Regions from separate parts of the Homo sapiens genome. Here region 1 is linked to region 2. The links come from fine-mapping of genetic effects on gene expression. Tissue or cell type: whole blood. Region 2 holds a variant in brackets; the other region holds the start of a gene. All regions are shown on one strand. Distances are from middle to middle. Region 1 holds the start of SEMA4D (semaphorin 4D). Region 2 holds the start of LOC105376137 (a long non-coding RNA gene).

The links.
Region 1: SEMA4D starts here. The variant in region 2 is fine-mapped to the expression of SEMA4D in whole blood (INTERVAL, PIP 0.96).

What each region holds. Positions count from the first base shown.
Region 1 is chr9:89,494,679-89,505,459 of GRCh38, forward strand. It overlaps SEMA4D (semaphorin 4D), which reads right to left and starts at 3,435. Exons shown (of 16, transcript NM_001371194.2): 1 at 3,241-3,435. RefSeq lists silencers at 2,755-2,904, 3,335-3,524.
Region 2 is chr9:89,523,363-89,539,771 of GRCh38, forward strand. LOC105376137 (a long non-coding RNA gene) reads left to right here and starts at 735. Exons shown (of 3, transcript XR_930102.3): 1 at 735-3,128; 2 at 3,530-3,662; 3 at 4,470-8,100. RefSeq lists enhancers at 8,890-9,059, 8,892-9,061, 12,392-12,561, 12,831-13,000, 15,693-15,862 and 1 more and a cis regulatory region at 15,778. The variant C/G (reference allele first, on the strand shown) is at 9,119.

The sequences.
Region 1 (10,781 bases), 31 kb before region 2:
TTTTCAAAGTGCATGCAAGTAGGCAGAACAGAACAAAGAACCCAGGTACTCTCATCCAGACCCCAAACTGTCCACTCAGACCATCTCGCCCCTTCTCATCCCCTCTGCTTCCCCACCCCACACTAATCTGAGGCAGATCCCAAACATCATTTCATCTACCAACACTCAGTATCTATTGCTAAAGGGTGAAAGTTATTCTAACATAACCACGATGCTGTGATTAAGGAATTCCTTAAAATCATCATTCACTCCACAAATGTCCATGAGACACATCAATAGCCTAGTTTTCAAAGGAGTGATGCTTGGATCAAATGCTGATCCAAGTGACAGCCTGGATCAGGCTTTGATCGAAGCCAGAAATCTTGGGGTGCCACTTAGATGTGATCCAGGGCAGGGATGCAGTCATTGCTTTCATGGGCAGCATCTGAAACTTCTGGACCAAATAACAGGACCCTGCCTGCCCCCCACTGAGGTTTGCACAGGTGCTGTGGGAAGGCGGCTGCTGATGCCCCAGGGGAAGCAGCAAGGCAGTAGAAAGCTGGGGCCCCTGCTGTGACACCCCCAGCTAAAGGCAAATTCGCTCAGGGAGGGTCACAGAAGCTGAAAAGTGACCCACAAGCAGCAAAGCAATTTGCTTATCCCAAGGATCGCCTTAACTAGTGCACCTAAAACACCACCCAGCTTCCAGGGAAGGCCCTGGCACACCCTCTCCACCTGACTGAATCAGCAGCTATCTCCTCCAGCAGCCCTGGACCCTGGACGGCAATGGTGATGGGGATGGGGATGCAATGGGCAGGGCTGAGGAACTGCACCTGCCAAGCCCAGGGCGGACCCTGGCCCAGGGAAGAGAGGACCCACCCCAGCTGCCTCTGCCACCTCCCTTCTCACCTTCTAGTCTTCTTCCTGGAATTGTCCAAGTTCAAAGAAGAAATAACTGCCCTGGTTGGGAACAGCAGGCAGCAGCCTTTCTCTCAGCAACTAGGCTCGACAATCAGCCGACGGCACGTTTATTTCTATATTTTCACGTGGCAAGTTTCATCCCCATGGGTCCTAGCTCCAACCCTGGAGCTCTGGCTCCAGGGGTCAGGAGGAGAATCTGCAACCACCCTCCTGGACCCGCCCATCCCTCCCTCCCCAACAGAAATGGAACCAAGAGAGGCAGAAGCCTGAACAGCCTCAATGCAGAAGCACAGAAGATAGAGAAAACCATTGATCTTTGCAATGCATTATTGATTTTGCTGTTGTGCTGTCAGCAGCGGACGTTCCCTCCCTCCTCAGTCAAAGCTGGCCATTAGCGTGCACTCCCAAGCTTTGGCCTAGACACACCCGCTTGGTGTGGGGAAAGCGGCTCTAGGTAACATCTGCCTCCAGCGGTCCACATGGAGAGGACTGTCCACAAGTGGATGATGTCACCAAGGACATCTCCCTGGCCCCAGACCCACTGGATATCAAATGCAACATGGTCGCTGGTCTTGCACTCTAAACCTCAGCCCAGGACCCCAGGCACTCAGGGGGGTCTGTGCAAGGCTGCATTTTCAACAGACTCTGGGTGTGCTTCTCAGGAGGTGGGCCCCCTCCCATGGAGTCCCTCCCTTGTGCTGTGCTGCAAGACCTTGGGCTGGCATGGCAGCTGGGGCTCTGCATCCCCACGGTGGCCTTTTGCCTGTCTGCACTCTGAAATACAGCCACTGAGTTCCACCGTCTACCAACTCCTAAGCGGCCCACCCTCCTGGGACCCCAGGGCTGCTCCTGGCACCAGTGATGTGTTTCTATTTCTTTGTTTGACTCGCTGAGTGTACCACGTACACTCTTCTCAGTCTGAAGGTCTGGCCTTATGGGAGGGCAGTCTTTGCTCACAGAAACAGGCCAGTGCATCCCTCATCTTCCCACCCCAGCCTCCCTGGTGGGTATGCTGAGCCCGCCTGCTTTCTTCTTCTGGCTGACGACTACCAAGACATGATATACGCAGACACCAACTGTCAAAATGACAATCAGGGCATTATCATCTCTACCAGAATCCTGCCCCTGCACTGGCCAGAGCTGCCTGTTTCTGGGACACAGTAAACATTCCCAAATAACCTCGCCTGGGCAGCCAGCAGGCAGGCCCCAGGCCTAGGACACATATGAGGTGACAGGCCACTGGTGTCACGTCACCCCCAGGAAAGGAAACTTCCGTTCCGTGGCGCCTGGTGGATTTGAAAAGACTCAGAACAGCAGGGTGAGATGCTTGGCCCCAGGCCCCACGTCCAGCTTGGCCTTCGGGGGCCTGGCCACCCACGAGCCTGGGATGTGCTCAACACAGAGTGAGGTTTTCAAAACAAAAGCAAAGCAACTTCATGTGGAAAACCTTCCGGAAAGCAGGACCCAGCCCTCGACACCAGGCCTCATTTGACGCAAACTGCCCACTTACAGACTCCCATTCACCCACTCTCCCACCTACCCCCCAAAATACTAAGCCAGAAAATAGAGGACAACCACGAGTTCAACTCTCCTTTACACGTTTTTACTGGCATAACCCCAGTAGAGCCAGCCCCTTGCAGCTCACTAGGCGGCTGCAACAGGTGCAGCCCAAGCTAAGGCTTGTGGTTCTCCTGGGCTGTTCTAGAATAATGCAACCAAAACCCGAAAGGAAACCGAGGCCTGCAGCACTCACTGCCAAGGCGGCGACCTGACCACTGCGGCCCAACCTGCCCCACCTGTCTGAGTGCGCGGCGCCGGGTCCAGTGCACAGGGTCCGCGGCCTCCGCGACCAAAATAGAAGCCCGCGGGGGCCCGGCCAGAGCCCGGCTGGCCGGAGTGGGGCCTGACCTGGCGGGGCCGGACTGGGCGGGCCGGGGCGCGACGGGGCCTGGCCGAGCGCACCGCCCCCTCCCTGGCCCGGGTATGCAGCGCGCCCCCGCTCCCCCGCGCCCAGAGGAGCCACCTGCGCGCAGGGACTGGGGAGGCAACCGGGAAGGGGAGAAGGCCGGGGAGGGATAGCAGAGAGGTCCAGGGGGTCGGAGGGGTCCGGGTAGGTGTCTCTGGGAGGCGTCCCAGGAGGGGCCCCGGGGGGATCCAGGAAGGAGTCCAGGGGTCCGGGGATCCCAGAAGGAGGCTCCTGCAGGGGTTCGGGGAGGGCCCCGAGGGTCCGGTGAGGAGCCTAGGGGTGTGGAGTGGGGGCTCCGCGGAGGGTCCAGGCCGCCCCCAGCGCACCTGCCCGGCCCCGCGCGCCCTCCCTCCCGCGCCAGCCCGGCCGCTTACCTGCAGCGCGCGTCCTGCCCGCGGCGGCTCCCGGCCGGGCGAGTTCGGGCGCCAGGAATGGCGGCGGCGGCGGCGGCGGCAGCGGCGGGAGGCGGCCGGGCCGGGGAGGGGGTGGCGGGGAGGCCCGGCGGCGGCAGCGGCGGCTGGGATGCTGCGGCGCGCGAGAGCGCTGAGGCCGGCGCGGGGACGGAGTGCGCGGGGCGGGCGCGCAGGCCCCTCCTCCGCTCCCCCTCCCTTCCCGCCTCCTCCCCTTTCCCTTCCCCTTCCTCTCCCCCTTCTTCTCTTCCCTCCTATGGCCCCGCCCCTTTCTTCCTCCTTCCTCCTCCCTCCTCCTCGCCCCTGCTCACCTCCCTCCTTTCCCTCCCCCAACCTTTCTTTTCCTCCCTTCTCTTTTTCCTCCTCTTTCTTCACCTTCGCAACACTCTTCCACCTCTCTCCCCTTCTCCCCACTTTTGCTCCCCACTCCTTCCTCCTCACCTCCCATCTCTCTTGCCTCCCCGCCAGGCCCAGAGGGTTGTCCCTCAGCCCTGGGTTGGTCTCTGCTGAGTCAAGCACCCGTTCCCAGGACCAAGAGGTGCCCTGTCACCCTCTTCCTCACCAGCTCTCAATAGACAAGCTTGCCCCTTCTGGGGTCCTGGATGAACCCCACCCTTTCCAGGCCTCCCCCAAATCCCCCAGTTTTTTTTCACCCCCAGACCCTGGGCCAGCTCTTCTGAGAACCTGACCTGCAGTGTGCGTGAGGCACGTGGCACCCAGAACACTTGGCTGCTGACTTTGGGCAAGAATATTTCACACCAGGCTGCTCCCATTCCCCAGGGGAGGGGCTGGCACCACCTGGAGTCTTGGTTTCCCTGAACCCCCGTGCTAGCCTTTTGCCAAACGTTCATCATTTTCCACTCTGTATGGCAAATGGTCCTCCTGTGAGGCTGCTGGTGAGACTTGTTTGTGACTAGCCCATGGGTTTGGGGATCTGGGGGCCCTCAGAGATGGTGCTGCTCCATCCAGACCTCTTCCCTCTGCCCCCAGGAGAGGTGACAGGGCTCGCACAGTGACTGGCCAGGCTGGGAGGCCTATTGAGGAACACAGTCCTGAGAAGGGGACACAGTTTCTTACGGAACCAGCTAAGATTTCCCCTAAATGTGAGGAGTTGGGGAGCCCCTCTCCAGGCCAGGTGATACCTCCCTGGACTACAGACTGCTGTTGAGGGGCAGGGGCCCTGAGGCTGTTTTCCTGCTGAGCACTGGCTCTGAGAGCCAGAGTTTACAAATGAAGCCAGTCCCAGGCCCAACAGTCACAGAGTTAAAGGCCCAACAGTCTCAGAGTTCCGTTCTAGGGCCTCCTGTGGTTTCTGTGGTTCAGTGCCGGAGCTCTGAGAATAGGGCTTCGGCCCAGCAAAGGCTAAGATGGCAAAGCTGGTGTCAAGCAGGGTGGGGTGGAGCACGCACCCCCTCCTCCCTCTACGGCATGGCAGCCACCACCCTCTTGCTGAAGAATCCAGACCTGGAATCTGATAGACTCCCTTGACTCACAGCTCTGCAGTTTCCAAATAACCTCAGGCCTCAGCAAACCTCTGTACCCTGCAACATGAGGACAGTGTGGTCGTCCTGGAGGGTTTGGGGAGCACGGAGAGAGAATGGCAGGTAAAGCCCACTGCACCGTGTGCTCGGGTTCAGTGCTGGTGACTATTACAGGAAAAACTAGAGAAGTCTTTTCCAAGCTCTTTTCCAATTGTAGGGGTCCATGAATCCATGTTCCACATCCCATTTGGATTGAAACATAATGGGAACGGATTAGGACAGAACTGGTTTAACAGCATTCTATACCCAAGGAGGGATGCACGCTTAGGATCTACACATGCAAGCATTGCACTGATTGGGGTGGGGTGGGGGGACTCTCTTTTATTCCTCACTAGTCAGACACATCTAGAATACCATGCCCTTGCTTGGTGTCTAAGGCAGCCAGCAGTATCCCGTGGGAGGGGAGTTGACCCACCGGGAGTCTTCAGCCTAGAAAATCAATGTGTGGAGCACAAGACAGAAGAACCCCAATATGTGCAAAACTGTCCCGGGAAGAAGGATTACTCTGTGGTGTTATGAAGGGCAGAATGAGGACAGATGGGTGGAAATTAGATGAGAAAGTGGATTCCTGCCTATCGTGGGCGCTTTCTGACAGACCTCACTGTGGAAGAGCCGGCTGCCCCTACAGGAGCGTGCCCTTCACAGCCAGCGTCTAGACAGGCCTGGGGCCACCTTGGGAACACACTGCAGGGAGGGGACCAGCAGCAGAGGGGTATGCTTCTCAACAACTGCTGAATTCTCTCCTGGCTTTTAGACCCACATGCTCAGAATCTAATAGAGGGCAGCCCAGGGCAAAGAAGAGACTTTGCATGGCTGTCCTGGGGCCCACACTTCTGGCATCATGACCTTCCAGAATACTGTCCTCTCTAGCCTGTTTCCTAATGCATACAGAAGAACATGAGAGAATTCAGTAAAAACTCCAAAAAGCTTTCCGCAATGCCCAGGCTGCGAACACAAGGGCTTCTTTGCACCGTGCTTATATAAAATTGCCCCCAAACATGTTTATTGCATTCATGAAGGAGACAGGACTCTTAGTTGTAAGTGATAGAACTTCAGCCCATACTATTGGCTCACTTGCATCCAAAGATGCCCCAAGTACCATTAGAACCGGGACTTGGATGCCATTATTAGGTCTTCCTCTTCCCTCCTCTCTGACCTTCTTCCCTGTTCCCTTCTCTCAGCATGATTGCCTATGTCTCCCAAAGTGACCAAGCTTGCCTTTTTATTCTTGTTTCACACTCTGTCGTGGGACATTTCAAACATAGATATAAAAGTAGCAGGCTGGGTGCAGTGGCTCACGCCTGTAATCCCAACACTTTGGGAGGCTGAGGCAGGCGGATCACCTGAGGTCAGGAGTTCGAGACCAGCCTTGCCAACATGGTGAAACCCCGTCTCTACTAAAAATACAAAAATTAGGTGGGCATGGTGGCACAAACCTGTAATCCCAGCTACTCAGGAGGCTGAGGCAGGAGAATCACTTGAACCCGGGAGGCGGAGGTTGCAGTGAGCCAAGATCATATACCACTGCACTCCAGCTTGGGCGACAGAGCAAAACTCAGTCTCAAAAAATAAAAATAAAAGTAGCTAAATGAACTCCAATCTTGCCTTACCTCTCACCCCCTTACTTTCCCCTCCAATATTAAGTTCAAGCATATCAAAGATCATATTAACCAATCTATTTCCTAGTTTCCCCAGAAATGCCAAGTGTTTGGATACTGAGACCATGCTTTGCAAAGTTTCTCTGCATTTCCCAGCCAGAATGTTGACACCATCTATATGCATATGAGCATAGTAACTGGATTGATAATAGTTAAGTCCCATATGAGAAAAAAACTCAAGTATGGCAGCACAAATAATACTCAGCTTCCAACACGGCCCAGGTGGATATGAGGAGAGAGGATCCTCTGCTTCCACTTTGCAGTGCAGGAGGGAACAGGCACGTAGTGGGCTGGGAGCCGTTTCCAGATCGCCCAGTGTGGAGCCTTACGCAGTGGAGGAGGTGTCTTCAGAAAGAGTCGGCCTGCCGCCTCTCACCTGTAGTGGCATGCAGAGTGTCCAGGCTAAGCTTAGAGAGAGAGTCAGCACAGCAAGTGGAGAAACGGGGTCCTCTGAGGGACTGTGGGAAGGTTGGCTCTGGGACCTGCCAGCAGCTTCTAGAAAAGTCCGGGGAGATGTCCTTTGAATGTGACCACACTCTGCAGAGACGTGGGTGAGCCACACCTCCACTGTTACCATGCAGTGGCTGCCAAGACCATGCTGTGACTCCTACTCCTAGCTCTGTTCCTCCCCGCACCCCAGAAAAGGCTGGTAAGAGTGTGGCCTTCCTGGCCAGCCTCTCCAAAATAGAGAGTCCACACCGGTCTCTGTCAGGCACCCTGATTGTTAGAACATGTCAATGAAGGAAGCCGAAAGGGATTTTGAAGGCTCTGAGATCCCCAGGCACCTCTAGCACCCTCATATGTCCTTACTGCCACTGAGACCCCCACAGGACCCACAGAGCTCTTTTTGTTAAAGCCACACTTGGAAACGTGGGGTCACACCAGCAGAAGCATAGAAATGAAGGCCGTGCTGAGATGTTATCATTGCTCTGTGCTCCTGCACAGCGTTCAACTGTCAAACCACTAAGTGCTAGATAAATCTGGTGAAGGGGTGTAATCCATTTTTGGTGCACACACTCATGGCAGCACTTCCCACATCACTGAACATGCAGAATGGTTTACCAAGCCATCCTTCGTCATACTGGGGAGTGTACAGGATGCTGATGTGGCCCCATCTGACCATTGATCTAATCAGTGCTGGTGTCTGCTGGATTAGACTTGCCCCAGCAAGTGAACTTGCCCCAGCAATGCCTTTCTGACCTTTAAGGTGACTGCTGTCACCAACTGCCAGACCATGGACCTCTTCGCATCCCTGGCTGGCTGGCAGACACCCACTTATGTGTCAAGGCTCTGCCCTGGCATCATTTCCTCCAACACAAACCCATGCACCCTGGGCAGAGCTAATATCCCCCACCCTGCTCCTCAGCTCGAATGTCACCTTACACGTCACTTCCTTGGTGCCTGCACCAGCTTCCATTATAATTGTTTGTTGATAGTTTTCTTTCTTCTCTGGTCTACATTTTGAACTTCACAGAGTGGTGAGGTCTACAGAACTCTTTTCAGAGTAATGTGTTTAAATGCATAAAGTCAAATACAGGATTCAAAAGGAAATGAATTATACTGAAATCCAGCTACCAAAATACTTTAAAATGTGATCTACTTGCTTCTTTTTTAATAATATGCTCTGGCGGCAGATCTGATAGCTGTAGTTTCCAAGTCATGATAAGTCAGCCGATATTTTAAAGTCTGTAACGAGCATGATGTGATGTGAGAATCGCTGTGATTTCTGCTGAGAAGTCCTTACATACTGCTGATGTGGCTGTGTTTGTTGCCTGCATGTACACCCGAAGGAAATGCTTCCTTTCAGTTAGAGGTTAGTGGGGAAAAAAATGTAATTCTTTTCTTATCATCCTTCCATCTGGATGGACCCTTCAAAGTTGATCAGACTAAGAATTACTATTTTAAAGGAAAGGGACCTTGTATCTCCAGCATCTTGCATAGTGCTTTATAAAGTTGCCATCAAACATGTTTATAGCATTAATGAAGGAGACAGGACTCTTGGTGGTAAATGACAGAAATTCAGCTCATACTATTGGCTCACTTGCGTCTAAAGGTGCTCCAGGTACAGTTAGATCCAGGGACTTGGATGCCATTATTAAATATCCCTCTTCTCTCGGCTCTCTGACTCTTTCCCTCTTTCTCTCTGATTGGCCCTAGCTCTGTTTGGGTGTTGGTTTTATCCTCTCCTGTCACAAGGCTCCTGGCCACCAAACTCTAAAATGATGACAAAGACTCTTTCTCTTTATATTGCAAATCTCATGGAAGAACTTTGATTGGCTCTGTTGGCTCTCATGCCAATCCCATTTACCCAAAATTCCAGAGAAGGATGAGAAACCACAACCGGTCAGACCTGGGCCACATGCATATGCTTGCAGCAGGTACAGTTCACAATCTCACAGAACTGCAGGGCTGTGGGAGAGCAGTTCCCTAATGCACAGATGAGTGCTAAGCAAATAGAAACAACATGTGCCCAGGTGTGTTCAAGTCAGAGGGCAAATGAGCAATCACAGAGTGTTTATTTGGATGCACGATTCCCTGCTATGATAAAAATCCAGTGGTTTGACTGAGACAGAAGTTTATTCATTTCTTATATAACATTATCAGAGGTAGACATGTGGACCAGGACTGGTGGGGAGCTTTGCTGTCTCCCATTTGGATGTTACCGTCCATCTAGCTGGAAAGAGGAAGAGTATGATCAATAGATTTCATAGGCCAGGACGAGTGTGATCAATAGATTTCAGTGCAATACCAGGAAGTAGCACACATCACTTCTGTCACATACCATTGACCAGAACTTAGTCCTGGGCCCACATGTAGCTGCAAGGGGGAGTTGGAAATGTAGCTGCTAGTTGAGTGACTATGTAACCAGCTAAAAGTCTGTAATTAATATATTAAGGAAAGGAAAAACAGATATTCATGGACAACTAGGTGAGTGCCATGCTCACTGTAGTGTCATTAGTGCTACTATACATTTAAGTGGAAAATTGCTCACCTACTAGAATGTCTAAAATTGAAAATAGCAAGTGTTGGCAAGGATGTGGAGCAGCTAGAATTCTCATACATCTTCGCTGGGAGTGTAAAATAGTATGGCCACTTTGGAACATACAGAGCAATACTACTGAAGCTAAATACTCAAATGCTCTATAACCCAGCAATTCCTCTTCTGGATAGAATGCACAAAAATAAGTGCATATGTTTACCAAAACACATATATAAGAATGCTCATGATAACTTCATTTGTTGTGACTCCAAACTAGAAACAACCCGAGTGTCTATCAGTAGTAGAAAGACAAATAACTGGTGGTAAAGTCACCCTATGGAATACTACAAAGTAATGAAAAAGGGAAAGAACTCCACGTAGCAAAAAGGTGAGTCTCTTAGACATAATTCTGAAAGAAGTCAGACATACACAAAAGAGCCGCTACCGTATAATTCTGTCCATAAGAAGTTCTACAACAGCAAACATAACAAAGGGATCAATGTCAGAATAGCAGTTACTCTTAGGTAGGTTCTGAATTAGAGAAGGCACAGTGGGAGGCTGAAAGTGTTGAGTATCTGGACCTGGGTGGTGGTTACCTGAGTGTATACATATGTCAAAATTCACTGGCCGGGCGCGGTGGCTCACGCCTGTAATCCCAGCACTTTGGGAGGCCGAGGCGGGCGGATCACGAGGTCAGGAGATCGAGACCATCCTGGCTAAAACGGTGAAACCCCGTCTCTACTAAAAATACAAAAAATTAGCCGGGCGTAGTGGCGGGCGCCTGTAGTCCCAGCTACTTGGGAGGCTGAGGCAGGAGAATGGCGTGAACCTGGGAGGCGGAGCTTGCAGTGAGCCGAGATCCCGCCACTGCACTCTAGCCTGGGCGACAGAGCGAGACTCCGTCTCAAAAAAAAAAAAAAAAAAAAAAAAAAAATTCACTGAGCTCTGCACTTTAATGTTTAGAATTTATCCTCAATAGAAAATTTTAAAATGCAAAGAAGTAAAGAGAAGTGTCTGTAACTAAAAATGATGGTGTGTTCAACTTTCAGTAGGGCCCCTGCTCTGGCTTGGGAGAGCCATCCCCCACCCTGCTCTCTACACTGAATATCAAACATAGCAAAAGTCCTGGTGGAGCATTCCTGAGGGGCAGATGCTGCCTGCAGGCTGAGTTCTGTCCTTGACAACACCAGAGCTTGAGTTTCTCATAGAAATATGCAGGACAGGCCATGCTGTCCTCATGTTATGGAGGAGGAAACAGGGCAGGTCAGTGAAGTTTATTCTTCACTGGATGTGCTCTTTCTGGGCACAATTTTGACCTCGTGTTTG
Region 2 (16,409 bases):
ACTTGACTTTATTTAGAATTCCAAACACAGACCTTGCCTGAAATAGGAAGCCAGTCTAACATCTGGAATCCCCTGATTATACTCATGGAAGACACTGTCCTTTTCCTATTTAATGGAATTTCCTCATTTCCTTTCCTGCCAAAAGAATCCAATTTTGCATTAAAGTTGCAGGCAAAGAGCCCTTGATCTCAGAGAAACTAGGCGTCCTGCAGTCCCTTTGGTTTAAGCTATTTAGCTGTAGCAACCCCCTTCCCTTTGCTACCGATTGTTATGGGGTGGCACAGAACCCTATTCTGCACGTGGAGAGGTAAACAGAAGTCAGCTGAAGCCTCCAGGTCTTTTTCCCTATGGCTTCCTTCTGGTTTGGGATGCTCACGTGATGCCTGGAGCTCTCATAGCTATTTTGTAACCAGGAGGTAAGCAGTGTATGGCCCTAAAGCTCTTGTGCTGAGAGTGAAAACTGAAGGGCAGGCCATGCCTGGCTTGGAGGACATCATTGAGCAATGGCGCCAGCTCTGACTTTCCATGTCCAGGCCACTTCTGTGGCATCCGTAAGTGTCACAATTATTGAAGCCCCTCTGAGATGGGCGTTCTCATATTTGTTGCCAAAATCACTTTTATGGAAATATTTTTACAAAAATCAGCCTAAGTGATACTTTACACAGACATATTTATTCCTTTTCAACCAACCTAAGCCCATGTTTTCATTCCTTTCACTGATGATCTCATCTGTCAGCAGAGACAGGAAGGACAGCTGGAGGGTGTCACCTCCACATAGGTCCCAGACAGACAGATAGGAGGAGGTTGAAAGCGGCCCATTGGGCTCTGTGGGTTGCAGAGGGAGGTGTGCTAGAAGGAAGGATTTGGGGAAGCAGCTTATTCTGCCCTTTCCTTCTGGGCTGCATCCTGGGCTGAGGGTCTTCCCGTGTCAGCCAAGAGCAAAGGGTAGGGAGGCTTTTGGACAGTCAACATCTTGGGTCTCAGAAAGATACCTCCTCTCTGGGGACCCCCACTACTCCTCAGGCTCGCTGGGAGGGTGGGCAGCGTGGTGCTTCTAAAACATGTTTGCAAATTCTTTAATAGTCCTCTGGCCAAGAAGTGCAGCCTGTGTTCCTGTCCTTGAACCCAGATGGACCTTTGTGTGAGTTCTGAGGCTCAGATAAAAGAGGCCACACTTCTGTGTCCAATGCCCTTGGAACACTTGCTCTGGGAGCCTCCATATAAAAAGTCAGAATTCAGAGGACTCCAAGTGGAGAAACCACATGGAAAGACCAGAGAGAAAGAGACAGACAGACAGACAGAGGAGAGAGAGACAGACAGACCCAGAGAGAGAGAGACAGAGAGAGGGAGAAGAGAGAGACAGAGAGGAGGAGAGAGAAGAGAGACAGGGAAACAGAGATACACACAGAGAGAAAGGAGAGACAGAGTTGGAGAGAGAGAAGAGAGAGGGGAGAGAGAGAGAAACAGAGATAGAGACACAGAGAAAGGAAAGAGTGAGAGTAAGAGACAGAGAGATACAGAGTGAGGCAGAAAGAGACAGAAAGAGATAGAAAAAGAGAAAGACAGAGACAGACACACACAAAGAGAAAAGAGAGACACACAGAGGGAGAGAGATGTAGGAGAGAGGGAGAGAGATATAGGAGAGAGAGAGTGGGAGCTGGCTCAGCTGTCCTGTCCCCACCGCCTGGGGCTGGACCTGTGAGTGAAGAGGTCACTGAGATGGCCCTGCCCGGCCTCAGTCTCGGCTGCAGCCCCCTGAGAGAAAGCCTGGATGAGCTCCGCCTGGTCTGATGGAGACTCTGGCAGGGTCAGATTCATTCTGGGAATGGAAGAGCTCAGGCTGATTGGGTTGCTGATGTCTCCATGGTTACCTGGAGTCACTAGAGAAAGACAGCCTCATTTGAGTGGGATTCAGGGTCTGACCATCCAACTCTGACTGCATGTGTGACATGCGCTGCTGCTGTGTGTTTGGCTTTTCCACTCGTGTCCCCAAAATCTCCACTCCAGCTACTGAAGTTTTAAGATATTGAAGACTCAAGCAATCCCCTTAACATCAGCAAAAGGCTGGGATGCATCCAGGAAGCTAGGCTGTCTTTTTGCCTTGGGGGGAAAACGCCGGAGCCTCCTAAAATTCAGTGCCTTCCCTCTGAGCCCGGGTTTCGCTGCTGTAGGGAGACTGACAAGAAGGCTAAGGACAGATGGAAGGAGAAAGCCATGAGAGACACCGGAAAGTGGAGAAGATAGGGGATGCAGGTGTGAAGACTGGAGGAGGAGCGCTGCTGGAGGCGCAAACTGTCGCTTGTGTTTTTGAAAAATGACTCTCTTCAGAAGGCCTGCTCTGAACACGCCTTCCACAGCACAGGGTGGTGGACAAACAGGCGCCTTCCCATTTGTCCAGGTGGAGAGGTGACTTCAAAGCTTAGGTGTGAACGTCCCTGTGGAAAGTGGGGCCATTAAGCCCCAGACAGTGTGAGTGTGACTGGTGACTTGAGTTCACAGCGGTTTGGGTTCCTGTGGCCATTTCCTTTAATGACACATTTGCCTTATGAATTGTTATCTGTAATTTCTGAGGAGACAAAGACAAAAGCGGAAGTAGTTGGTTCCAAAGATTTAACCATTTCTTCCATTTCTCAGTGTTCATGACTTCACGAATCATGAGGAAGAGGAGAGGACATGGAAGAGATGGCAAGACAGCAGGTCCTCCGGCTGTGCAGTGGGGAGGGCAAAGCGGGGCGCACGGCGAAGAGGACCAGCCAGGCCCGGAGCCCCAGGCAGCGCCTCACCCAGCTGGGGTAGGAAGCACAAGGGCAGGAGCAGAGAGCCTGCTTCCAATGCTGCTGGTTTGCCCTGAGTTTCAAAGTCCACGACCCAGGACTGGCTGACTTCGTGGGAGGATTTAACCAAGAAGAAAAACTGGAATTTTGAGATTCCAAAGCCTTCCACGAAACTCCTTGAATATATTTGTATGGATGTGCTACTCAAAGTTTATATGATTTTTGACCCAATAATTTCATTTTCCTATACCCAGATGATTCCCCCAGAGAGAGCATAAGAGGAAAACAAATCAGAAGGTCCAGTGGAGAGCTTCTACCCTCATTACCAGCTCCAGGGACGGGGATCTGCACCTGGTGAGAGTGAGGGGCAAAGGCATCAACTCTTAATTTTCCAACTTTGAGGAAATCATTCACCAGTCCGTCACAGCCCCCACTTTTATTTTCCAACTTCTCACCCTGTTTTCAAGGGCTCCTGAGTGAAACCATTTAGGCCCTTTCCCTCCTCTTTGCTCTCTCTCTGAGGCAGCCTGAGTGGTTCCTTCTCCCAGAGGGGCCCTGGGTCTTTCCAGGCATCTGTCGGGGCCCAGTCACTCTCCTCCAACTGGAATGTTCTGCTCAGCATTTTTTTCTGGTTAAAACTCAACCTATCGCCATGATATTCCTTTTGGGGGACAATTTGGCAATAGGTGTGTCACAATTTTACAGGTGCAGTCCCATTAGCTGAGAACATTTATGAGTCATTTCTATATTTACAGGAGTGCAAGATCCACGAATGTGCCTGCATGCTGTATACAATGGTAGAAAATAAAGAAGGCCATCTGCATGTCCCAAGTTAAATACAGCATGGCCCAGCCACACTGGGATACATGTAGCTTTAAAGAGAAGTAGGTAAGTATGCCCAGATATGGGAAGATGCCTAAATTAGTAATCAAAGGCTAACAATATAACTGTAAGCTAAGCAACTTGAAACAACCAGCATTTATTGTCTCACGGTTTCTGTGGGTCAGGAGTCCAGGTACAGCTTAGCTGGTCCTCCACAACCAAGGTGTGGGCTGGGGCTGCAGTCACATTTGAGGCTCGAATGAGGAAGGACCTGCTTCCTCACTCACATAGTTGTCAGCAACATTCAGTTCCTTGTGTGCTGTGGGACTGAGGGCCTTATTTCCTGCTGGCTGTTGGCCAGAGGCTGCCCTCAACTCTTTGTCACAGGGGCCCTCTTTATGTGGCCACTTGCTTCCTCCAAGCTAGCTAGGGAGTGTGTCTCCTAACAAGACTGATGTGATCATCTTATGGAGCATAATCATGTACATCCCATCATCTTTGTCACTTTCTATGGGTTAGAAGCAAGTCTGTGTTCCAGGGGAAGATATTATGCAACGGAGTGCATATTAGGAGGCAGGGATCATGGGGGAGGTGACCATCTTAAAGGCTATCCATAATATATCCAGAATATATTTTTAATTAATAAAAGGCAAATGAATCAGAACATAGAAGGGATGGGTAGCTAACTACAAAAGATTCTACAGCATTGACTTATTGCTGGGAGTGGCTCCCAGCCAGGACCCCATTCCTCAGCACCCATGGACTGTGATCTAGGGAGGACCAAGTGTCTGGTTCTCACCAATGGAACATGAGTGGATGGGGTGAGTGTCACTTCTGGTCCAGAGGATTAAGAAGTGGATGTGACTCCCACAGTCTCTTTTGCCATCTGCCCATTGAATTGAAGAGAGTCACCATTGAAGATGTGGAGCTGCCCAGTGAGTGGGTCCAGGAATCCCTGCTGGGAGGTGAATCACCCAAACAGGAGCGCCCACATGGATGGAGATACGCACAAGAGGTAAACTTTTATTTTGTTTAGCTGTGGAGGCTAGGATTTGGTTATTACAGCAGCAGCTAGTATACCTTCAATAGTATATACGGTTTAGTATAATCTGATTCAAATATCTGTGCATAAGTGTGTGCAGTTATGGATGTATGTTGCCATACGCACTTTTCATTCTCTTAATTGGGTAGTCAGAATTCTTCAATGTGTCTGCATAACAAACTATTCCAAAACTTAGAATCATAAACAATAAGCATTTCTGATCTCTCGCAGTTGCTGTGGGTCAGGAATTTGAAAGCAATTAGCTGAGCGGTTGGGGCCGCTGTCTCATCTAAAGGTATGAATGGGGCTGGAGGTTCCACCTCCCAAGCAGTTCCTCATACAGCTGGGCAGTTGGTGCTGCTTGTGTGTGGGAGGCATGCAGACCTCTCTGCCGGGCTGCTTGAGCGTCCTTATGGCATGGCAACTGGCTTCCTCCAGAGTGAGGAATCCCAGAGAGAGCAAGGCAGAAGACTCAATGTTTTATGAGCTAGCCTTGGAAGTCAGGCACAATCATGTTTGTGATGTCTGTTGATGACACTGGTCAGCCCTATTCAATGTGGGACAGGACTACACAGAACATGAAGAGGGAGAGGCTGGCTACCATAGGGAAGTCACAATAGAAAAACACCTTGATCTGAATCTCAGGGTGGGGCATGGAAACGGAAAGGTTTAAGCAAAATAAACAAAGTGAAGAACAGGCTCAGCTGCTCTTAACGGGAGCGGTGATGCAGGCTTTTGTATACCGAGTGAAGTCACACAGGGAGAGGAGTCACAAGGAGGGTTGCAGAGGTCAGCAAGGCTGTGGTGGACATCTGTGGACACGGTGACAGAGTGAGCCTCAGGGCTGCTCAGTGAAGGCCAGAGATGGTATTGCAGAATCAGGAGCCCAGCACAGAGATAACCAGGACAGCAAGCCCACAGACTGCTGAGTGATTCGGGAATTGATCCTTCCCTCATCTCCAGGGAGCTGGAGCAGAAACCAATGGTGTATTTGTGATGGGGATGGTGGGTCTCACTCTCAGGTATCATGTGGAAGGAGAAAGAGGCTGCTCCTTTAGACTGCACTCATATCTGAGTGGGTCATCCTCTAGGCTTTGGAGATTCAGGTACCTGCTACCTGCTGTGTCCAAGGACTCCCAAGTGAAGGGTTCGTGATTCCCGGGTTTGGGGGTGGTGCACAGGAGAAAATGTCAGCATTTTCATTTTCTCTCTAAAAACCAGGAACCCTGCCCTGTGCTGATACTGAGTGTGCACCTGCCCTCCGGCAGCCCCTGTTTTTCCCAAGCCCTGTGACTACTCTCCCCATCATGTAAGGGACAGATAGCTTAATAATACTCCTGCCAAGAGATGGCAGAATAAAGATTCTATTAATCATTTCTCTGGCAATGAGACAATGGCAGAGCCGACACTGTAGATCTCACTGGAGCCCCACGCACATGACAAGAGCAAGAAACTGTTTGAAAGAGAGACTGACACCAGCATTGTCAACACAAACCATGCCCTGGGTATGCTGCTCATGGAGTGTTAGCTAATGCAGTATTAAGCCAGCATTTTTAAAAAAAACTTATTTTTTAATTTTAATTGACACATAATAGTTGTATGTATTTATGGGATACAATGTGATGTTTCATTACATGTATATATTGTGTAATGATCAAATCAGGGTAATTAGCATAACCATTACAACTTCATTACTTCTTTGTGGTGGGAACATTCACAATGCCTCTCTTCTAGCTATTTGGAGATATACAAGAACTTATTGTTAGCTACAGTTACCCTACTGTGCAGCAGACACCAGAGCTTATTCTTCCTTTTAACTGTATCTTTGTACCCGTTAACCAACATCTCCCCATCCTCCTCTCCCCGCTAGCCTTCCTGTCCTCTGGTAACCACAATTCTACTCTCCACTTCTATGAGCTCTTTAACTCCCACATATAAGTGAGATCATGCAGTATTTCCCTTTCTGTGCCTGGCTTATTTTGCTTTATATAACATCCTCCAGGCTCATCCATGTTGCTGCAAATGACAGGATCTCATTCTTTTTTCATGACTGAATAGCATCCCATTGTGGATATGCACCATGTTTTCTCTATCCTATGTGTCCTTGATGGACACAGGTTGATTTCATCTCTTGGCTATTGTAAATAGTTAAGCTAGCATTTTTAGCAGAACATTTGGAAATAGTCTTTCAGGTTTATCTTATCTTTTAAAAGTTTTGGTGTATGTTTTGTAATGTGTATAATACATACAGTAGTTATGTGTATATAATAAATTTGCATAGATATATGTATATTGACTTTTTACAATTAACAGTGATGTAGTTCAGAAAATGAGATGCCCTGTTTGGGTGACTATTCTGTCTCAGGTGTTAGGTTGAATGACCAGGTGGATAACTGTCTAATTTCTTGCTGGTCCACAGAGACAACTGCCCTTTATCACCTCCTCCAGAGCACAGGTTGAGGGCAGCTACAGTCACATAGTGCTTGAGAAGCAGCCGGTGAGGCCATTCCTGTATCACTGGCCCTGAAAGCCAGCTCTATGCACTTTTCTGTGCCGAACAGATTGTCCTGGAGAGTTAGCTTTTTGTCTACTAATCTCTATGCTTGGAGGTCTTTGTGGAATGGAAGTTTTCTCATTAGCAGGCAACACAATGAAAAACTTCCAATAACTGCTCTTAAAGACTTTATCTGGGCCGGGCACAGTGGCTCATGCCTGTAATCCCAGCACTTTGGGAGGCTGAGGCAGGCAGATCACCTGAGGTCAGGAGTTCAAGACCAGCATAGCCAATATGCTTGCCGGGTCTGTCCCACAGACCCTGGCCAATCGACGGATGAACGGGGTACTCAGACACAGGTATGCAGTGGAAGAGCAGCTAGGGGACTTCCAGGCTCTAGTGGCCAAAGTACAGCATCCTCGAGAAGCTGGAGCTGCTTGCTTTTATTGAGTGCAGGCACAATGCTAAAAGCCTGAAGCAATACACAATCTGTGGGTAATTAACATTTATTGTTCCCCTTTCAGGGAACTTATGGAACTTATGGCGGATGATCACAGGTCAGCTCCTGGCCAACATAAGTAAACAAGCCTGTTTAAGATAAATTTCCCTACAATCCCTTGTACCTACTCCTTGCCCTCTGCCTCAGGGTTAGAGAACAGCTGTCTTCAGCTATTCTCCCCCGAAACTATGCAGAGCCTTCTGACCTTTCAGAAGGCCTGCTCCTTTCCCTATAGTTTCTCCCACCACTCTGACCAACCTCCTAAACATGATGAAACCCCGTCTCTAAAAAAATACAAAAAATTAGCTGGGCTTGATGGCAGGTGCCTGTAATCCCAGCTACTCAGGAGGCTAAGACAGGAGAATGGCTTGAACCCAGGAGCAGAGGTTGCAGTGAGCTGAGATCGCACCATTGCACTCCAGCCTGGGTGACTGAGCAAGACTCCATCTCAAAAAAAAAAAAAAAAAAACACCAAAGGAAAAAACACTTTATCCTGCCAGGAATAGAACTGAACCAGGAATCCATGAAACAAGAAAAGCAACTCTGGGGGCCCCTGGGTGAATCTCTGCTCCTAGCTGGGTGCCATCCTTCCCTCATGGGTCCAGGAAGCTTCTACTGTCAGGGCCTGAAAGACAAAAAGGGGTGCACACAGAGCCAGGGGTTCAATCCCATTTATCTCTGGGGTCATGCTTTCTGCTGGACATGGTGGGCTTAGGTGTGTGAACATGCTTGGACCAGACTTGAGTCAGAAGAAGAATCATCCTCCAATTTAGCTATGAGAACAGCACTGTTCCTGAGTGGTGAGAGTCAGCCTGCATCCCTCTGGGGCCTGGAGTCCTTGCAGGGATCGTGAACTGCTTCCATGGTCCCCACTTGGAGTACAGCAGGACCTGGTGCCCAGAAGGGGTGGCCATTCATGTGGCAGGCTCACAGCCTCTCTGCTAAGCACCATCTCTCCCAGAGCCGGCAGATTTTCCACGGTGGTGCAGATGGCCTGAAAATGGCCAGGATTTGGGGCCTCCACATCTCCATGGCTCAGCCCCAGCCAGCAACCAGCATGGGCATCCTAGCCTATGAGTGGCCACCTGCTTTCCGTGTGATGAGAGCACACATCAGTTGCAACAGGGTTGCCAGGCTTAGCCAACAAAAATATTCTCCTATGCAATATTGGGGATATAGTTATACTAAAGTTTATTTGCTGTTTATCTGAAATGCAAATTTAACTAGGCTGTCCGTATTTTATTCAACAACACTAATGACAAGGGCTTTGAATCTGAGTTCTGCTATCTAGTGACCTGAGAGCTGCCTGAGCTCTCTGAGACTTAGTTTTGTAGTCTGCAGAATGGGAAGGACAATGCCACCTCTCTGAGCTATCCATGTGGCAATATGCAAGATGGGAGAGAATCTTCCAGCTGAGTGGCTGGGGTCTTGGCCCACCTGCCTCTTGTGTTGTGCAGGGGAATGCAGCTGCCCAGCTCCATGTGCAA[C/G]GAGAACTCCAGTGGAACAAGGATGGCTTGTAATGATGCTAGTGACAAAGGTTGCCATTTATAATTGGAATTCCTGACCAAGGTTTCTGTTCAGCACACAACAGCCCCTTCATAAGTGCTGGGTGCAGTCCACACTCTGTCATTGCCACCGTCGGCTCTCTGGCTTGAAAGGCTCTGGGAGTGCCAGTGAGTCAATAGTTCCTGTTTGATGAGAGCTGCTTTATCACTTCCAGGTAGCCCTGTCCCTCACCATACTGCATAGGGATGGAGTCACCCTGGTGTTGGGCGGACTATGGCTCCAGGCCCAGCAGTTCACAATGATGGCATGAAGGCTGTGATGGTTAAAAGGGGTCAATTTGACTGGATTGAGGGATGCCTGGATGGCTGGTGAAGCAGTTTCTGGGTGTGTCTGTGAGTCAGAGGACTGAGAGGAAGACCCCCTCTCAATGTGGACGGGCGCCCTTCTGTCAGCTGGGGGTGAACAGGTGGACAAGGCAGGTGGAAGGAGGATGGATATCCAGCACTCTCCCTCTCTCTCTCTCTCTCTCTCCCTCTTCTTGAGCAGGAGGCTTTTTCTCTTCCTGTCCTTGGACATCAGACTCCAGGTTCTTTGGCCTTTGGACTCTGGGATTTGCATCAGCAGCCTCCTGGTTGCTCTCAGACCTTTGACCTAGGACTGGGGGCTGCACTGTTGGCTTCCCTGGTTTTGAGCCCTTCAGACTTGGACTGACTTTTTTCATAACCCAGCCTGCAGATGGCCCAGCGTGGGACTTGGCCTTTGTAACTGTGTGAGCCAATTCTCCCTAATAAACTCCCATATATATATATACATATATCCTATTGATTCTGTCCCTCCAGAACCCCAACTAATACAAAGCCTTTCTTGTAGTCTCTCAGGCATGCTCCTCACTCCTGACATAGGGACATTATCTAGTCTTCACCCCTAGGGAAACTCACCCACAGCTTCACAGCAGGAGGGCACGCTGCTTCCCACGAGGCTGGTGGACTCCAGCATAGGCATCCTCAGCCCTGCACCAAGTCCTCAGCCTGAACAGACATAGGAGACAGCGCTGCACATCAGGAGGCTGGGGGTGCATCCTGGGAGATGCCTTCGGGCCAACTTCCCTGGAACTTTCCAGTTGCCATGGTGACAGTCAAAATCGTGGTGATATTTCAGGTGGTTGGCAAGACACGGAGTCTGGGACAGCATGCTGCAGGCTGATGTCCCTCTGATTCAGTGTCTGTGGCTCTGTGCTGGGAAGGATGGGCTTGAGGAGAGGGTCAAGCAGGGCTGGAGAGGATTCTCCTGGGCCAAGCAGATAGCTTTGCCCGGAGCTGTGCCAGTCAAACCTGGCATCTCTCCTGGAGTGTGTAATGCGGTGGCAGTTTGTGACATTAGGGAGGAGGTTGATTGATTATGGTTTGTAACAGGTCATCCAGGAACAGCAGCCATTGTTTTAATGAAAAATCCACATGGCTGATGATGGAGAGGAATGTAAATTGCCTTGGAGGACAGCGTGGGCCTTGGGAGTGACCCAGTCCAGTGAGATTCTTACCAGCTGCCATGTGACCCCCTGTGCACTGTGCGTTCATTGCTGCTTGTCAGAAATGCCTTCTACCAGTTAACTGGGTCCTATTTTTGATGTGATAGCTAGATTGGTCTCTGTTTTTTAGCTCTCTTCTCGAATGGTTTTCAGAACTCAATTTCCTTTTCTTGCCTAATTTTCATCAGGTGATGGTCTTATGATTAATAAAGTAATGTTTATCCATTGTAGTTTAATAATTTTAAAAATAATATTTGTCAGTTAGAAAATAAGAAACTCATAGAGGAATAATCAGAATCACTCATGATTTCCATCCAGGGGTCGAATGCCAGACCCCAGATCTTGCCCCCACTCCACCCTCCACTGCCAGGATACTAAAAGCTGCGTTTCCTGCTCATGTGGGAAGGGGGGCCCAGAGTATGTGGGGTGGGGGCAGCAAGGGCAGAGTCCATGAGGGCCTTATGTCTGATTTGAGGTGGGGCTTAGCGAGGACGGGGTCACTGTCTGGGCTGATGGGGCAGCCAGGTGAAGAGTTGAGGTGAGGGATGCGCAGCCTCCCAGGGGCCAGCCGTCTGTGGAGGTTTTCCATGGAAGGATTGATGGCTCTTTCGGGAATCTCCTGTTGTAAATAATTAAGCTGCTTGCTTGCACCAGAGTCTGCGGAAGGAGCTGAGATGCTGACAGCAGGGGGCGGAGAGCCAGTCCTGCCTGCAGATGAGGGTGTGGGGGTGTCTGTGTTGTGGGGGCTGGATGGCTCCGGCTCACACAGGACATATATGAACACATGGTAACCTAATAACTTTGCATGCGTTAGCTCAGGTCATAATTTATGACAGCTGAAATGGACAGCACTAAAAAGGACATGGGAGATGGAAAAACCATTGCCTTTTGCGCACCACACTCCTGCTCACACAGTTCTAGGGTGTACACACATACCTGCGCATGGAAAGCTGTGTGTGAGACTGTGAGTACATGTATGTAGGGCTGTGTGTATGTGTGTAGGGCTGTGTGTGTATGTGTAGGGCTGTGTGTGTGCGTGTGTAGGGCTGTGTGTGTGTGTGTAGGGCTGTGTGTGTAGGGCTGTGTGTGTGTATGTGTGTAGGGCTGTGTGTGTGTATGTGTGTAGGGCTCTGTGTGTGTGTGTAGGCGTGTGTGTGTAGGGCTGCGTGTGTGTGTAGGACTGTGTGTGTATGTGTGTAGGGTGGTGTGTGTGTGTATAGAACTCTGTGTGTGTGTATGTGTATAGGCCTGTGTGTGTGTAGGGCTGTGTGTGTGTGCATGTGTGTAGAGCTGTAGGTTTGGTGTGTGTTTAGGGCTGTGTGTGTACAAGTGTATAAGGCTGTGTGTGTGTGTGTGTAGGACCCTGTGTGTGTCTGAGTTTTATTGGGGTTGTGGGTGTAAATAAGTGCAGAATATTTAATCAAGGCAATGAGTTCTAATTTCCTTTTTAGATGAAAAATTGCAGTCTTTACCTTGTCAGGCAAGTGGAAATGTGATAAATGTCCCAGTTTCCGCACAACTGTTGTTCTGTTGACAGCTGTCAAGTTCCACCTGGCACACTTGGGGCTGCGCTGGCATTCTGGCCTTGCCTCACCTTGCCCTCAGGTATAGGATGTGCTCATGGTGCCCCATGGCAGCGAGACCTTGCCCTGCTTCACACCCTCTGAGCCCCCAGGGACCCCTGGTTGTCTCAGCTCTATGGACACCCACACCTGCCAGGGGGGTCACAAATGGCCAGCAGGTGAGGAGAGGCACCAATTGTCCTTCAGCCACCAGGAAGGAAAGTCCTTGAAGGAGGGCACCACCTCCAGGGGCTGAGGATGTCATAAAGTGATTGACTTTAAAGAACCCAAAGACAAGTGCAGGGTCCTGAGGAGGTCTGAGGTCCCAAGTGGGGCCAAGAGGAAGGGGGAGAGGGTGGGAGATAGCAGGTCTGGGAGATATCCTTGGGACCCCATGAAGCAGGCCTGACGAGCGTGCAGGAAGGAGAGTGCTCTCAGTTGTGGAGGAATCCATATACAATTTCCAGGACATTATTATTTATCCCATTTGGTGTTACAATTTCAGAAGAAGGAATTAAAAAATCACAAGCAAAATAAAACAAACTACTCAATCATCTGAGTAAAGTTCTGAGTGCACAGTGTGATTTCATCAGATAGAAGGTGATTTTGAAAGATGGGTCTCAGAGTGAACAAACAGGAAAAGAAAAGGGGATCCCGGCACTGGTGTGAGCTAAGTTGCTTGGGTGCATCCGTAGCAAATGGATTTAAAATACAGGCATTTAACGTAACACTGGAGAGTAAGACGTAATGGCATCCAAAGCTATCCATGGCATAATATTACATGAAAATATGGAAGTTGGAGCACACATCACCCCTCACATATGTAGGTGTGTCTATGTGCAGAGAAAAGGCAGGAAGGAAGTGGACAAACTTGCTAGAAACGGTTAGATGTGGGAGGTGAGAACACAAAGTGGTCTCCTTTTTTTCCTCTCTCTTCTTTCTCTTTTGTTTTTGCTTCTCTGTGTTTGCCTTTTACTTTTTTTTTCTTACAATGAATATATATATATGTAAAACCACACATATATACATATGTGTATATGCATGTTTTAAATAAGGAAAGCAATATAAGAAAAGACGTTTGGGAAATGTCTACTGTATATTGACTTATGCATGGTCCAGGACCTTATTAGTTACCTTATCTGATGTGTTCAACAGTTCTCTGAAAACTGGTAACTGTTCTTATCAGTGTGTAGGCTGAGGCTCACTGGCTTGAGCTGTCTGTCCCCAGGCAGCCAGCGTGTAGGTGGCGGGCCTCCTCTTCTGGTTGGGTTGTGTTGATTTCACTGCCCCTCCACCATGAAGGCAGGGTACAGCCTGGCAGCCTTTCCACCCTGACCCAGGACAGTGGGGAGAGCTCATCTCAGTTCTGTGATCATTTCTGCGCCTGATTTCCAATTAATCTGGAAGCCGAGTGCCCTGCAGGCTGTGCCTCCCCATATGGGCTTCAGAAGGCTCATGGAGTCTCCGTAGAGAACATCAGCAAGTGACCAGCGAGACCTTTGATGCAGGAAGGTGATGCTGATGGCCGCTGGGCCTTTGCTTTGGCTCAGTGTGCCTGCTGGAAGGGCGTCTGGGGACTGTTCCCAGTGAGGTGCCCAACCAGGAGAAAGCTCTTTAGAGTTGCTGCTATGTCAAGGGCAGGACAGGCCTTTGCAGAGTGCTGAGCCATAATCCAGGCGCTCCCTTGGCTTCCTGTCTTCAGAGCCCAGGAGAAGCCCGGGTAGTTTTGTTGTAAATAAGTGACATTTGATCAAGACCAGAAAGACACATGTCGTTGGGTTATGCCTGGCAACCAGATTCCTCCAGGCTGTTACTCAGGGCCGGCTGTTCTTTATTATGGGATTTATCATGTTGAGGGGGAAGAAAATGCAATTCCTGCTCTTCTGAAAGCACACAATGTGTTTCCATGCCCTGATGTCATTTATAATCTATGGCAGGAAAAATAACTTGGGCATACCTTTTTACTTGGTTCCTAACATTGCAGTGGCTCATGACCAAGATGGAAACTGGCTCTCAACCCTCGTGCTCAGAGCGTTCCACATGGACACCTGTTTTTGTCCTTGAACTATGAATTTCATAGTTAGTAGTGGCGTCTCAGAGCCCTCTGGGAGTGGTCATTAACAGGGATGGGCCATTTGGAACCAAATGAGACTATCTTGCTAAATTCAGCCAACATCAAGCACCAAGATGCACAGGACCTTGTGCAGGTAGCTGCAGGGACCTGACAGGAGCAGCCCCTCGCCTACAGCCATTGCGAGCCCAAGGGAGCTGGGACTCCTCAAGTAACCAGGAGCTGCCAGTTTGGGCCCAGGTTGGTTGCTGCTGTTATCTTGTGCCTGAGGGCCTTGCCTTCTCCTAGACGTGAAGCTCTTCGGAGGCAGAGGTCTTAGATTTTCCTGTCTCATCCCACAAGACACTTTCCTGAGTGTAGTAGGTGTGCAAAAACACCCTCAGCATCCCCACTCCCTGTACACACTGCTCCTTTTAAAGCAATCCCTGCTCCACGGCCCTGTGAGCCTGTTTGTTGGGCCCAGCCTGCAGGCACAGTGAGTCTGGTCTCTCCTGGCTAGTATTATTACACAGCATTGATGTAACACTGAGTGTCTGGCAGTAGCCTCCTGAGGAGTAGATTGACCTATAAAATAAGGGAAAACTGTCCTGAGACCCACCGGCAAGCCTGCAGCACTGCCTTCCTCATCCCTGGGGTAATGGGCTTTGCAGGCAGAGCTGAGCCTTGATCTCCTTTCCAGTCTCTTGGCAAATTCTGGAGCAATTGTCATTTCCAGTTCTTGGATCCTTAAATGGCAATGATGCTATATTTGCCGCAAGGAGGGCCCAGATGCATGCATGGGCCTATGTCTAGGTGCATACATGGGCCTGTGTTCAGGTGCATACGTGGGGCCTGTGTCCAGACACATATGTGGGCCTATGTCCAGGTGCGTACATAGGCCTGTGTCCAGATGCACACATGGACCTCTGTCCAGATGCATAGGTGGGCCTATGTCCAGATGCATATGTGGGCCTATGTCCAGCGGGGCTCCCTCTATGCAGACTCTCCCACTTAGGCTTGCTGGTCCCTTCTACACTCCAAAGGGTGAGTGTGAGGCCCCAAGAAGAGCAGGGCCCTGGTGGCAGGGAAAGCCTTAGGGGATGGGATCCTGTGGTGGGGAGCTGTGGTCAGAGATGGCTGAGTGACCGGGTGGATACTCTTTTAGGCTCCGTTCCACCAACTGGGGTGCTCCCTCGCATGCCTTTTGGGGAGCCTGAGCCTCAGTGTGTGCAGTGGGGTGATGGGCATGGGGGCGAGGGCTTCCCTGAGCGAGCGGGGAAGGTGCAGGGACCACCCGGTGTCTGCAGGTCACCAGCAGAGGGACGGGCTCTGTAATGACAAGCCCTTTTTGTTGGCAGGGCCCTGGCTTTCTAAGGTTCTTGGTGCCTCACAGCTGCTGAGGTTGAAGTGGGGTGTCAAGTGAGGCAGATGTTTACCTGGTAATGAAAGGCAGGTGGGTGGGGCAGGGTGGCTCCTGTCCCCGTCTTGCCTGCCAACGCCAGGCAGCTGCCTGTCCTTGTCACCTACCACCTTCCTTCCCTGGCTGCCTCTCCTTGCTCTGGTGGACCACAGGGGTGGGCATTGGCATGCAGGAGCTGGTGTCGTGGGGACAGAGGCTGGTTAGACAGCGTGCAGGGGAAGAAAGATGAGAAAGTGCTGTGTTGGTCTCCAGTCCTCTTAGCTGTTGGGGTTGAGCTAAGGCCTGAGGTCACTTTGAGGGGCCTCCATTGTCCCCTCGGTGAACCAGAAAGGATGATGTCTTAGAGGGAAGGGCAGTGCCACACAGCACCCTGCCCTGCTCAGGACCTGGGTCACCAGTTTCTCTCCCTCCTCTTTGCTCTGCCGTGGTCACTGCAATACCTCACCACCACGTTGCCCCTTAGAGTACATGCATGGTGCAGCCAGCGTGTGTGCACATGGGCATGTGTATGTGCCTGCATGTGCTGTGTGTCTGAGTTTGTGCATGTGTGTATGAGCACGCACACATGTGGGCCTGCGTCCATGTTTGCTCACATGTATGCATACACGTGTGTCGACATGCCTCTTCATGTATGCGTGTGTGTGTGCATGTCTGTGGGTATGTGTGCTTGCATATGTGTGCCTGTGTCTGTTGGGGAAGAGCTTGATTCTCCTTT